Regions from separate parts of the Homo sapiens genome. Here region 2 is linked to region 1. Evidence: fine-mapped expression QTL. A gene starts in region 1. The other region holds a variant in brackets. All regions are shown on one strand. Distances are from middle to middle. Region 1 holds the start of GIPC3 (GIPC PDZ domain containing family member 3). Region 2 holds the start of TBXA2R (thromboxane A2 receptor).

Region 1 (5,361 bases):
TGGGACTACAGGTGTGTGCCACCACACCCCGCTAATTTTGTATTTTTTGTAGAGATGGGGTCTCACCTTATTCCTCAGGCTGGTCTCAAACTCCTGGGCTCAAGTGATCCTCCCGCCTCGGCCTCCCAAAGTGCTGGGATCACAGTCAAGAGCCACCTCACCACACCCAGTTTTTGGTGCTTTGTTACAGCCATCATGGGCGAGTCAGACAACCTGATACTGCCAACCCCCCTCACTCCCCACCCCAGTTTCACCCTGTCCTGGCACAGGTACCACCACCTTAAATTTAGAGTTTCTCATTTCTAGGCAGGCCTGGAAAATAGCATTTTGCAGCAGTTTTTTATTAAAAAAAATTTCAGTATACAATTCAGTAGGTTTTGGTACATTCAAAAAGCTGTGTGGGCTGGGCACAGTGGCTCACGCCTGTAATTCCAGCAGTTTGGGAGACCGAGGCAGGCAGATCACTTGAGACCAAGAGTTCCAGACCAGCCTGGCCAACATAGTGAAACCCGGTCTCTACTAAAAATACAAAAATAGCCAGGGATGGTGGTGCATGCCTGTAATTCCAGCTACTTGGGAGACTGAGGCAGGTGAATCCCTCTCTCTCTCTCTTTTTTTTTTTTTGAGGCGGAGTCACGCTCTTGTCTGTCCCAGGCTGGAGTGCAGTGGCGCGATCTTGGCTCACTGCAACCTCCGCCTCCCGGGTTCAAGTGATTCTCCTGTCTCAGCCTTCCAAGTAGCTGGGATTACAGGCACATGACACCATACTCAGCTAATTTAATTTTTGTATTTTTAGTAGAGATGGGGTTTCATCATGTTGGCCAGGATGGTCTTGATCTCTTGACCTTGTGATCTGCCTTCCTTGGCCTCCCCAAGTGCTGGGATTACAGGGGTGAGCCACCAGACCTGGCCTTTTTTTTTTTTTTTTTTTTTTGAGACAGTCTCACTCTGTTGTCCAGGCTGGAGTGCAGTGGCATGATCTTGGCTCACTGCAACCTCCGCCTCCCAGGTTGGAGCAATTCTGCCTCAGCCTCCCGAGTAACTGGGACTACAGGTGTGCGCCACCACACCTGGCTAATTTTTGTGTTTTTAGTAGAGATGGGGTTTCACTGCGTTGTCCAGGCTGGTCTCGAACTCCTGACCTCAAGCAATCCGCCTGCCTCAGCCTCCCAAAGTGCTGGATTACAGGCATGAGCCACCGTGCCCGGCCTTACATAAAATTTCTTACCTCGTCCAAACCCTCCTGCCACTTTCTTTTCTCTCCCCATGTTCAGTTTGTGAGGCTCCTCCTGGGCGGAGGCTGTGACTGGCTCTGCTGTAGGGCCCGCCACTGCAGGCAGGATGGCTGTTTATTGAGCCGACATTCCTGGGTAGGAATCTGATGGATACGTAGGTGTTTCTGACATTGCACTCCAGCGGATTTTTACCAACGCCTCCTGGTGCCTGGGGTCTCCTCCTTCATCTGTGACCTGGACATCCGTTCATTCCTCACCAAAGATCACTGGGCACCTGCTGTATGCCAGGCACTGTGCCCTGGACACTGGGCATGGGGACAGAGCAGGGGAACAGCCCCCACCCTCCTGGAGCTGACATTCCTCCAGTCCTGGGGACAAACAGGACAAAAGATGAAATGAAATATCAGCAGGGGGCTGGGGCTCAAGCCTGTAATCCCAACATTTTGGGAGGCTGAGGCGGGAGGATTCCTTGAGGTCAGGAGTTCGAGACCATCCTGGCCAACATGGTGAAACCCCCGTCTCTACTAAAAATACAAAAAAAATTAGCTGGGCATGGTGGCAGGTGCCTGTAATCCCAACTAATCAGGAGGCTGAGGCAGAAGAATCGCTTGAACCCGGGAGGCAGAGGTTGCAGTGAGCCGAGATCGTGCCACTGCACTCCAGCCTTGGCAAGAGAGAGAGACTCCGTCTCAAAAAATAAAATAAAATAAAATATCTGATATGTCAGATGGTAGCTTTAAATGCTGAAGAGAAGCTGGGCACAGTGGCTCACATCTGTAATCCTAGCACTTTGGGAGGCCAAGGCTGAAGGATGGCCTGAACCTCCTGGTCTTGAGTTTGAGACCAGCCTGGGCAACACAGTGAGATCCCAACTGTACAAAAAATTAATCATGTTTCTAAATTAAATTTTAAAAAACTGAATGCGGCCGGGTGCGGTGGTTCACGCCTGTAATCCCAGCACTTTGGGAGGCCAAGGCAGGTGGATCACCTGAGGTCAGGGGTTCGAGACAAGCCTGACCAACATGGTGAAACCCTGTCTCTACTAAAAAATACAAAAATTAGCCAGGCATGGTGGTGTGCGCCTATAATCCCAGCTACTAGGGGGGCTGAGGCAGGAGAATCGCTTGAACCCAGGAGGTGGAGGTTGCAGTGAGCCGAGATCACGCCATTGCACTCCAGCCTGGGCGACAGAGCTAGACTCCGTCTCCAAAATCAAACAAACAAACCAAAGGCTGGGCGTGGTGGCTCATGCCTGTAATCCCAGCTTTTTTGGAGGCTAAGGTGGGTGGATTCCTGAGGTCAGGAGTTCAAGACCATCCTGGCCAACATGGTGAAACCTCATCTCTATTAAAAATACAAAAAAATTAGCCGGGCATGGTGGTATATGCCTGTAATCCCAGCTACTGGGGAGGCCGAGGCATGAGAATTGCTTGAACCTGGTGGGCAGAGGTTGCAGTGAGCTGAGATCGTGCCACTGAACTCCAAACTGGGTGACAGAGCGAGACTCCAGCTCAAAATAAATAAATAAATAAAAATAATAAAATAAAATAAAACAATGACCTCGCCTAGCAGAGGGTGAGTGCTCCAGCACCCTCAGCTGTCCCTGTCCTTTTTTTTTTTTTTTTTTTTTTTTTTGCGACGGAGTCTCGCTTTGTTGCCCAGGCTGGAGTGTAATGGCGCCATCTCAGCTCACTGCCACCTCCGCCTCCCGGGTTCAAGAGATCTCAGCCTCCCGAGTAGCTGGGATTACAGGCGCCCGCCACCACGTCCGGCTGATTTTTGTATTTTTGGTAGAGACGGGGTTTCACCATGTTGGCCAGGCTAGTCTTGAACTCCTGACCTCAGGTCATCTGCCCGCTTCGGCCTCCCAAAGTGCTGGAATTACAGACGTGAGCCACCGCTCCAGGCCTGTCCCTGTCCTTATTTGTGGTCCCTGTTCTTCCAGGGTCCTGAGCTCAGGCCCCCCCGGACTGCGGGTATCCCCGGGGAGGGCACAGCTGGCCCTGGCAGGGCCCGGACACCTGGGGCCCGACCCACCCCTGCGCACCCCGCGGTGTCGCCTTCCCGGGAGGCTCGGGTTCCCAGATCCCCTTACCCGGGCGTCTCGGCTGTCGCGCCCTGGGCCGGGGGAGGGGAGGCTGCAGGAAGCGGCGGATCCGGCGGCGGCGGCGAGGGCCCGGGTGGGTGGCCGAACTTCTCCCGCCATGGAGGGAGCAGCGGCCCGGGAGGCCCGGGGGACCGAGACCCCGCGCGCGTCTGCGCCCCCGCCCGCGCCCTCGGAGCCCCCGGCCGCGCCCCGCGCCCGCCCGCGCCTCGTCTTCCGCACGCAGCTGGCGCACGGGAGCCCCACGGGCAAGATCGAGGGCTTCACCAACGTCCGCGAGCTGTACGCCAAGATCGCCGAAGCCTTCGGGATCGCGCCCACCGAGGTAAGGAGCCCGGACACCGGCGCCCAAGACCACCCGCCTGATGGGGTGAGGGGTAGGGAGCTTGGACCCTGGACGGGAGACCCCAGATCCCCGGATCCCAGACGTCGGGGTGGCCGCCTAATCGCCGGATCTCAGAGACCCAGCCCTCAGATCCCGGGGTGCCACACTCCCAGGGGCCCCCTTTGCACGCTCTGCGCAAAAGATGGGCAGGTCTTAGGACTAGCGGACCCCTAGATATTCCAGAAAATCCTCTGCGCAGACCTAGCTTGGAGCGGACCCCAGCCCTCGGGGAAGCGCCTCTGTGCTTCCTGGGCGTAGCTGGGGTCTGGGGTTCCAGATGGCCCCCTTAGGGATGGGAAGTTTGAGGCCGCCGTGGGGTTGGGGGGTTCCTGGGCGTTTTTCCAATCCGGGTTCGTTTGGTTTGCAGCCCCCAGGGGGCGCCAGCAGATTAAACCTGGAGGTCTGGGGGCTGGAGGTCCCGGGGTATGGAGAGGGGTCTCCACCTGCTGGAAGTCTCCTTCTCCCTCCTCTCTCTGTTCTGGGGGTCCCACGCCCTGCCCTTTCCCATGGGCTGGGATCCTGGTCGCTGGGGGCAGGGGCCTGCGCAGACAGGGTGGCTGCGTGGGGGGATGCATGCCCTGGCTAACTCTAGGCTCCTTCTCCCCCGGGAAGATTTTATTCTGCACCCTCAACAGCCACAAAGTGGACATGCAGAAGCTCCTGGGGGGTCAGATAGGCCTGGAGGACTTCATCTTTGCCCACGTGCGAGGCGAGACCAAGGAGGTGGAGGTCACTAAGACAGAGGATGCTCTGGGGCTGACCATCACGGACAACGGGGCTGGCTACGCCTTCATCAAGGTGCCCGGGAGGGGGTGGGCGGGTGGCTTCCTGGGGTCCAGCAACTGCCCCCCCCACTCTGGGTCGACGTGGGTTCTGCGGATTGGAGGCGGGTGGCTGGGGTTGCCCTGCCAGCGACGCTGGATCCCTGCAGAGAATCAAGGAAGGCAGTATCATCAACCGGATCGAGGCAGTGTGCGTGGGTGACAGCATCGAAGCCATCAACGACCACTCCATTGTGGGCTGCCGCCACTACGAGGTGGCCAAGATGCTCCGGGAGCTGCCCAAGTCCCAGCCCTTCACCCTGCGCCTGGTGCAGCCCAAGAGGGCCTTCGGTGAGGCGGGTGGGCTGGCGGGAGCTCTTCCCGAAGTGCGTTCTACGGATGCCTGGGGTGGAGGAGGGTCGGGGATGGGACGGGCTGGAAGGTTCTAGGTGCACCCGCTGCGTGCCAAGGAGCTCCTGGCAGGGTATCAGAAACTCGTAGGTAGTTTCTATTAATAGATTGTTATGGAGTCAGCCTGTGGGGGAGGGGTGGGGGAGAGACTGGGTAAAGTGGAGTTGGAGGAGGACGCGTCCAGAACCACTTTGGAGCCAGGCTGGGAGACTTGTTTTTGTTTGTTTGTTTGTTTGTTTGTTTTTGAGACGGAGTCTCACTCTGTTGCCTGGGCTGGAGTGCAATGGCGCGATCTCAGCTCACTGCAATCTCCACCTCCCGGGTTCAAGCGATTCTCCTGCCTCAGCCTCCCGAGTAGCTGGGACTACAGGCACCCACCATTGCGCCTGGCTAATTTTTGTATTTTTAGTAGAGACGGGGTTTCACCATCTTGACCAGTCTGGTCTCGAACTTCTGACCTCAAGT
Region 2 (5,361 bases), 23 kb after region 1:
GCACCTCAGGCCACCACCGTGTGTGCACACTCGAGACACACAGACACAGCCAGACACACACAGGCAGAAACACAGCAGACACACAGGCAGAAATGTGACAGACAGAAACACAGCAGGCAGACGCACAGACGTGCACAGACACACACACAGAAACATGGCAGACACACAGACACACACACAGATAGAAACATGACAGACACACAGGCAGAAATGTGACAGAAACACAGCAGACAGATGCACAGACATGCACAGACACACATACAGAAACATGGCAGATACACAGACACACACAGATAGACACACACAGAAACACCACAGACACACCCAGACAGAAACATGACAGACACACAGGCAGAAATGTGACAGACAGAAACACAGTAGACAGACGCACAGGCATGCACAGACACACATACAGAAACATGGCAAATACATAGACACATACAGATAGACACACACAGATGGAAACATGACAGACACAGACACACACAAGCAGAAACACAACAGACACACAGACACACGCAGATAGACACACACAAGCAGAAACACAACAGACACACAGCCACACACAGACACATACAGGCAGAAACACGACAGACATAGACACACACAGATACACACATAGGCACACAGGCAGAAATGTGACAGACACAGACAGAAAAACACAGACACACAGGCAGAAACACAACAGGTACATAGATACAGACAGACACAGAAAGACACACAGAAGAACACACAGTATTTAACAGTCACAGACTCTCGGCAGAAACAAACACACGGTCACACACACAAAACCACCACACACGCACAGACACAGACACACAACCAGGGCCATGCATGGTTCACTCCCAGAGACAAGATCACACACACAGCCGCACAACCACACTCGATCCCTGCCACACCCAGGGCCTGGGCCCCCTCCCCGGCTGCAGCCCCCTGAGTCTGGGACCCCCATTCACAGCCATGTGGCCCCACAGAGACCAGAGAGCCCCCCGGACAGAATCAGCCTGGGCCGCACCCAGACCCAGCCGCCTGGGCGCCCAGGGCAGGCCTCAGGGCACCATGCCACCCGCCGGGCCACACAGGGGACACCTGGCACCTGGCCGCTGTCACCGCGGGCTTTGCGACACACCCACAGCAGGGCAGGGCCAGCGCCGGATGCGCCCAGCAGCCCGGGCTCACACCAGAGCAGTGCATCCCGCCCTAAGCCAGCGGGGCGACCTCACCTTCAGAGACCTCATCTGCGGGGCTCCCACCTGGCTGGATCCCGCGCCCGGGGGTCCGGGCGCCGTCTGGAGCTGAGCAGGCAGATGTGCGGGCGCCGAGGGTGGGGCGAGGGCTGGGGGCGGGCAGAGGGAGGGGAAGGACGGGCTCGAGCGGGACCTCCCAGGGAAACTGAGTCAGTCTGGCTGTGACCAGGGGCGGGCCCAGCAGAGGACCCACACAGATGGAGGGCGTGGCGGCACAGGACGCCCTGGGGTCGCGGCCTGGAGGGGTCCGCGGGGGCTAAGCCGAGCTGGGACGGGTGGGGGCCGCTGGCAGCCCGCGGCTCGCTCTCTCCGTCCAGTCTCTGTCTCCCGCTGTCTCTCATCAGCCCCGCCCACCCTGCGCTGGCCACGCCCCTCGGGCCCGGGCCTGGCTGACTTGGAGTCAGTGGGTGCCCCCCGCACGCCGGGACACCCTACAGCCTTCTGGGGAAGGCGGCGCCCTTGGGACCCCCAGGCCACCGGTGGCAGGGATGCAATGGCCCGCGTAGGGGTGGCAGGGGCGCTTCCTCGGGAGCCTCAGCCCCTCCAGCCGCCCAGCGCCCTGCCAGGCCTCTTCCCGGCGCTCCCGCCGCCAGGCCCGCATTATTCACCATCTGGGCAGCACCCAAGGCCTGGAGGGGGCGGGGCAGGTCCAGGCGGATCGGCTCCCGGGGGTCGCCCAGACTCCAGGGCTCCAAATTCACTGGGTGCGCTGGAACGCGGCACACAGTAGTAGTATGCCCTGCTTAATACATACAGGACATATTTGAGGCCCCTTCCAGGGGTGGGGTGGGAGGACAGAGGGATGGGGGGTGCACCAGACGACACAGCCAGACTGAGAAAGGTGGTCCCAGAGCAGGTGAGCCGGGAGGGCTGGGGTGATGGCATCGCATGGGAGGGTCTCTTGAGGAGGCTCGGAGGTGGCTTTGGAGCCAGAGGAGGAACAGTCTGGAGCCGGGAGGCTGCAGTGGGGGATGGGCACTCTTTCCTGGCCACCCCCCAGCTCGGGCTGGGGAAGGAGGGATGGAGCCCAACAGGAATGGCTGAGAAGGTGCCGGACGCAGGGACTGGGACCGTCTCTTTGCAGAGGGGGGACCTTGGGCTTCCTTGGCCTTGTTTGTACACCCGAGCC[G/A]GACAGAACCTTGAGTTAGGGACCTGGAGTGGGACCGGACAAGCTGACCTTGCCCTGACTGCACCCCACCCCGTCCCCTGGGCCCGGGAGGGCTGCTAGTCCAGGCTGTGAGTGAGGGGTATTCCCAGCCTGGCCCGGCCCTCTCGTCAGCCCAGTCCGGAAGCCCCTTCCCCGGCTACCCCGCCCACTATCCTTCCTCCTCCTGGCCTTCGGCCACACCCAACCTCCCTCCCAAAGCTCTATCCCATTAAGTCACCAGCCATTTAACACAACTTCTCTCTTTCCTGGCAAGGAGGCTATCCAACTCCTATGGATGTGGCAAAACCCTGGCTCCAAGGCTGCTTTCCCGTGAAGCCGACCTAATCTCCAAGTCTTACTCTCCCCAACCCCTCTCTGTGTTCAGCTTATACAGTGGGACAATTATGAGCTCCAAGTGAGACCTGAAACCAGGCCTGCCCTTCAGGATGCCCTAGGCTGGAGAATGAACTGGACACAGGCTGTTCCAGCCCCCTGGGGTCAGGGCTGGGCCAAAGGAAGAGACAGGGCCTAGGGAAGCCCAGAGGTGAGCTAGGAAGACATCTTGTGAGGAGAGGGCATGGGAAGTGGGGTTTTGTAGGATGAATAGGAGCTCCCCAGGTCTGGGCTACGTGGCAGTGACAGGAATTGCATGTATAAAGCTTTGGAGGCAAGAGAGAGCATGAGGCCCTTGCTACACTAACTGCAAGGAGGGCAGATGTTGGGGGAGGAGGATGTGGGGCTGGGGCTCCAGATGAGGGGGCAGTGAGAGACGGAGGAAGGCTGTCCTGTCCCCACTTCCTCTGTCCTCGGCCCTGAGATAACAAGGACAATGACTCTTCTGGGAAACAGCCTGGGCAGAGTTCAGAGAAGGACACTTGCATTTAGCTTAAGCCTCACCACATCTCTGCAAGGCAGGGGGTAAAGATACTCTTAAATTTTAGAGATGGGGAAACTGAGGCACAAAGGGGGAACAATGCCACGCCCATGTGTGGGATTGGAACATGAGCACTGGGCTTCCCTGTCATCTGGGGCTGGTTGCTGGTCTCCCGGTCTTGGCCCGCCCCCCGCCCCCCACCCCCCGCCAGCACTTCGGGTTCAATGGGAGCACAGGAGGCTCTGGTGGGAGGAGTTGTGAGGGGCTGGGGGGCAGATGGTGGGAACAGAGGCCAGGCTCAGGATGTACCCCCGTGGCTGCGGTTTCCGGCGGGGGCCGGGCAGGGAGCGTCTATTCTTAGCTCTGGACACAGCCAAAGTCAGGAAGCTGGGTGGGGGCGGGGGCAGCTTCCAGGACACCAGGTGGACCTCGGGCCATGGTGGAGAGTCATGGGGTAGATGGGGGGGTGGTGTGCAGAGCCTACCCCTGGCCCCCACCTCCAGTCTGCCTGCAGGGTCTCGACACCCAGCTCGGAGGCCCTCCCCAGCTCACGCGCCCTCCGTAGCTCCCTGGTGCCCAGCTCCCCTAGGATCTGGCTCCTTAGCTTGGCCTGAGCCCTGTGTGCCCCCTGCCCTGGGCACACCTGCTGCCCTGTCCTCTGCAAGGCAGCCGTCACCCTTCTCGGCCAGCAGCCCGTCTTCCCAGGCTCAGTGCCCGTGACCCTTCAGGGGTCCCAGGGCCCCAGCTCTGCTCCCTCCAGACTGGGGCCCCTGGCAAACCATGTGTCTTGCCAGTTGGAGGACAGCCATCTCCCTTGGGGTGCAAAAGGAACGTGAGGAGGAGGAAGCAGGATGCTGGGGCTGGGGGAATCTCTGCAGGGGCAGGTGGGGAAACTGAGGCAGGGACGGGGTGGTGGTCTGGGATTGGGATTCTCCAGGGTAGAGAAACCCAGCTTCTAATACTGGCCCTGCCACTTTCTGGGCTCAACAACGTGGGCTTTTGTGAGCCTCAGTTTCCCGAGCAGCCAAATGGAAGTAAATACTGTCACATAGAGCTGGTGGGAGGTCTGGGTTAGGCCCAGTACAGGCTGGGCTGCGCCAGCCACGCACACACAACCTGGGCTGTGACTACAGAACCCGGCCTGTCCCAAACACCACTCTGGGCTCAAAAGTGCCTTCTGGTGTTGAGGATGTAGAAAGCTGTGATCACGCCCACTGCACTCCAGCCTGTCTCAAAAAAATAAAAAGTGCCCCCCGAGTCCAGCCCGGACTCAGCCCTGCCCCAGCAGCCTGTCCTGATCGGCGGTGGAGCTGGCCAGGAACCCAGGCAAGAGGCTGCCCAGAGGATTCTAAGATGGCTCTGGCCATCTGCCATCAACTTGTGATGTCTGCTGAAGGCTGGGCTGGGGATGGCAGTGTTGTGTGTGCTGCAATGCGATTTGGGATTCTGGAGTAGGCTGGTCAGGGTGGGCCAGGGTCTGCGGTGTGGAGAGCGGACGCTGATCAGATGCACTTCCCTGGCCAGTTCCCAAGCCCTGTGCCACAGACTTCCGGGATCCTGTTAGAGGTGGGGGCTGGGAGGTGACCAGTGCCCCAGGGGAGTGCAGGATCTGCCTTGCACCTCTGCCTACTGCAGTGAGGACATTTGGGGAGGCTCATCCTGGGCACTGAAGCACATTGGGCAGCATCCCTGGCCTCCACTCACTCCACGCCAGGAGCAGCCCCAAGGTGGGACCACCACGAATGCCCCCAGGCATGGCCAAGCGCTGCCCCCATGAGAGCCTGGGCCCAGGCCAGCAGCTGTGTCCACCCTTGTACCCTCCCTCCTGTCGTCTGGGAAATGGACTGTCACCCCCACTGTGGGAGGCAAGGCAGAGGGGTGGGGGGCAAAGACAGATCCGGGCACTAACACAGCTCCCAAGGGACCACCGGGCCCCAGTTGGGTGCCGTGTTGTTTCCCAGGCTCTTCCCTTGGGACAAATGCGCTGTGTCACAAATGCCAGCAGCAACTAGGGCAGCGGGTGTGGGGCGTCGGACACGTTACACTCTCTGCATTTCTGCAAACCTAAGATTATTCTAAAATACAACGTTTAT

What was found. PIP is the estimated chance that this variant, and not a neighbour inherited with it, causes the effect.
Region 2: its variant is the best candidate, but not a certain one, in a credible set for the expression of GIPC3 in blood mononuclear cells (TOPMed, PIP 0.76).

Annotation. Positions count from the first base shown.
Region 1 is chr19:3,582,159-3,587,519 of GRCh38, forward strand. It overlaps GIPC3 (GIPC PDZ domain containing family member 3), which reads left to right and starts at 3,320. Exons shown (of 6, transcript NM_133261.3): 1 at 3,320-3,664; 2 at 4,337-4,522; 3 at 4,656-4,836. The coding sequence starts at 3,440.
Region 2 is chr19:3,605,307-3,610,667 of GRCh38, forward strand. TBXA2R (thromboxane A2 receptor) reads right to left here and starts at 1,569. Exons shown (of 3, transcript NM_001060.6): 1 at 1,224-1,569. It overlaps CACTIN-AS1 (CACTIN antisense RNA 1), which reads left to right and starts at 1,941. Exons shown (of 4, transcript NR_038865.1): 1 at 1,941-2,103. CACTIN (cactin, spliceosome C complex subunit) reads right to left here. Exons shown (of 10, transcript NM_001080543.2): 10 at 5,339-5,361. RefSeq lists enhancers at 546-1,120, 1,694-2,267 and silencers at 1,468-1,517, 1,628-1,707. The variant G/A (reference allele first, on the strand shown) is at 2,377.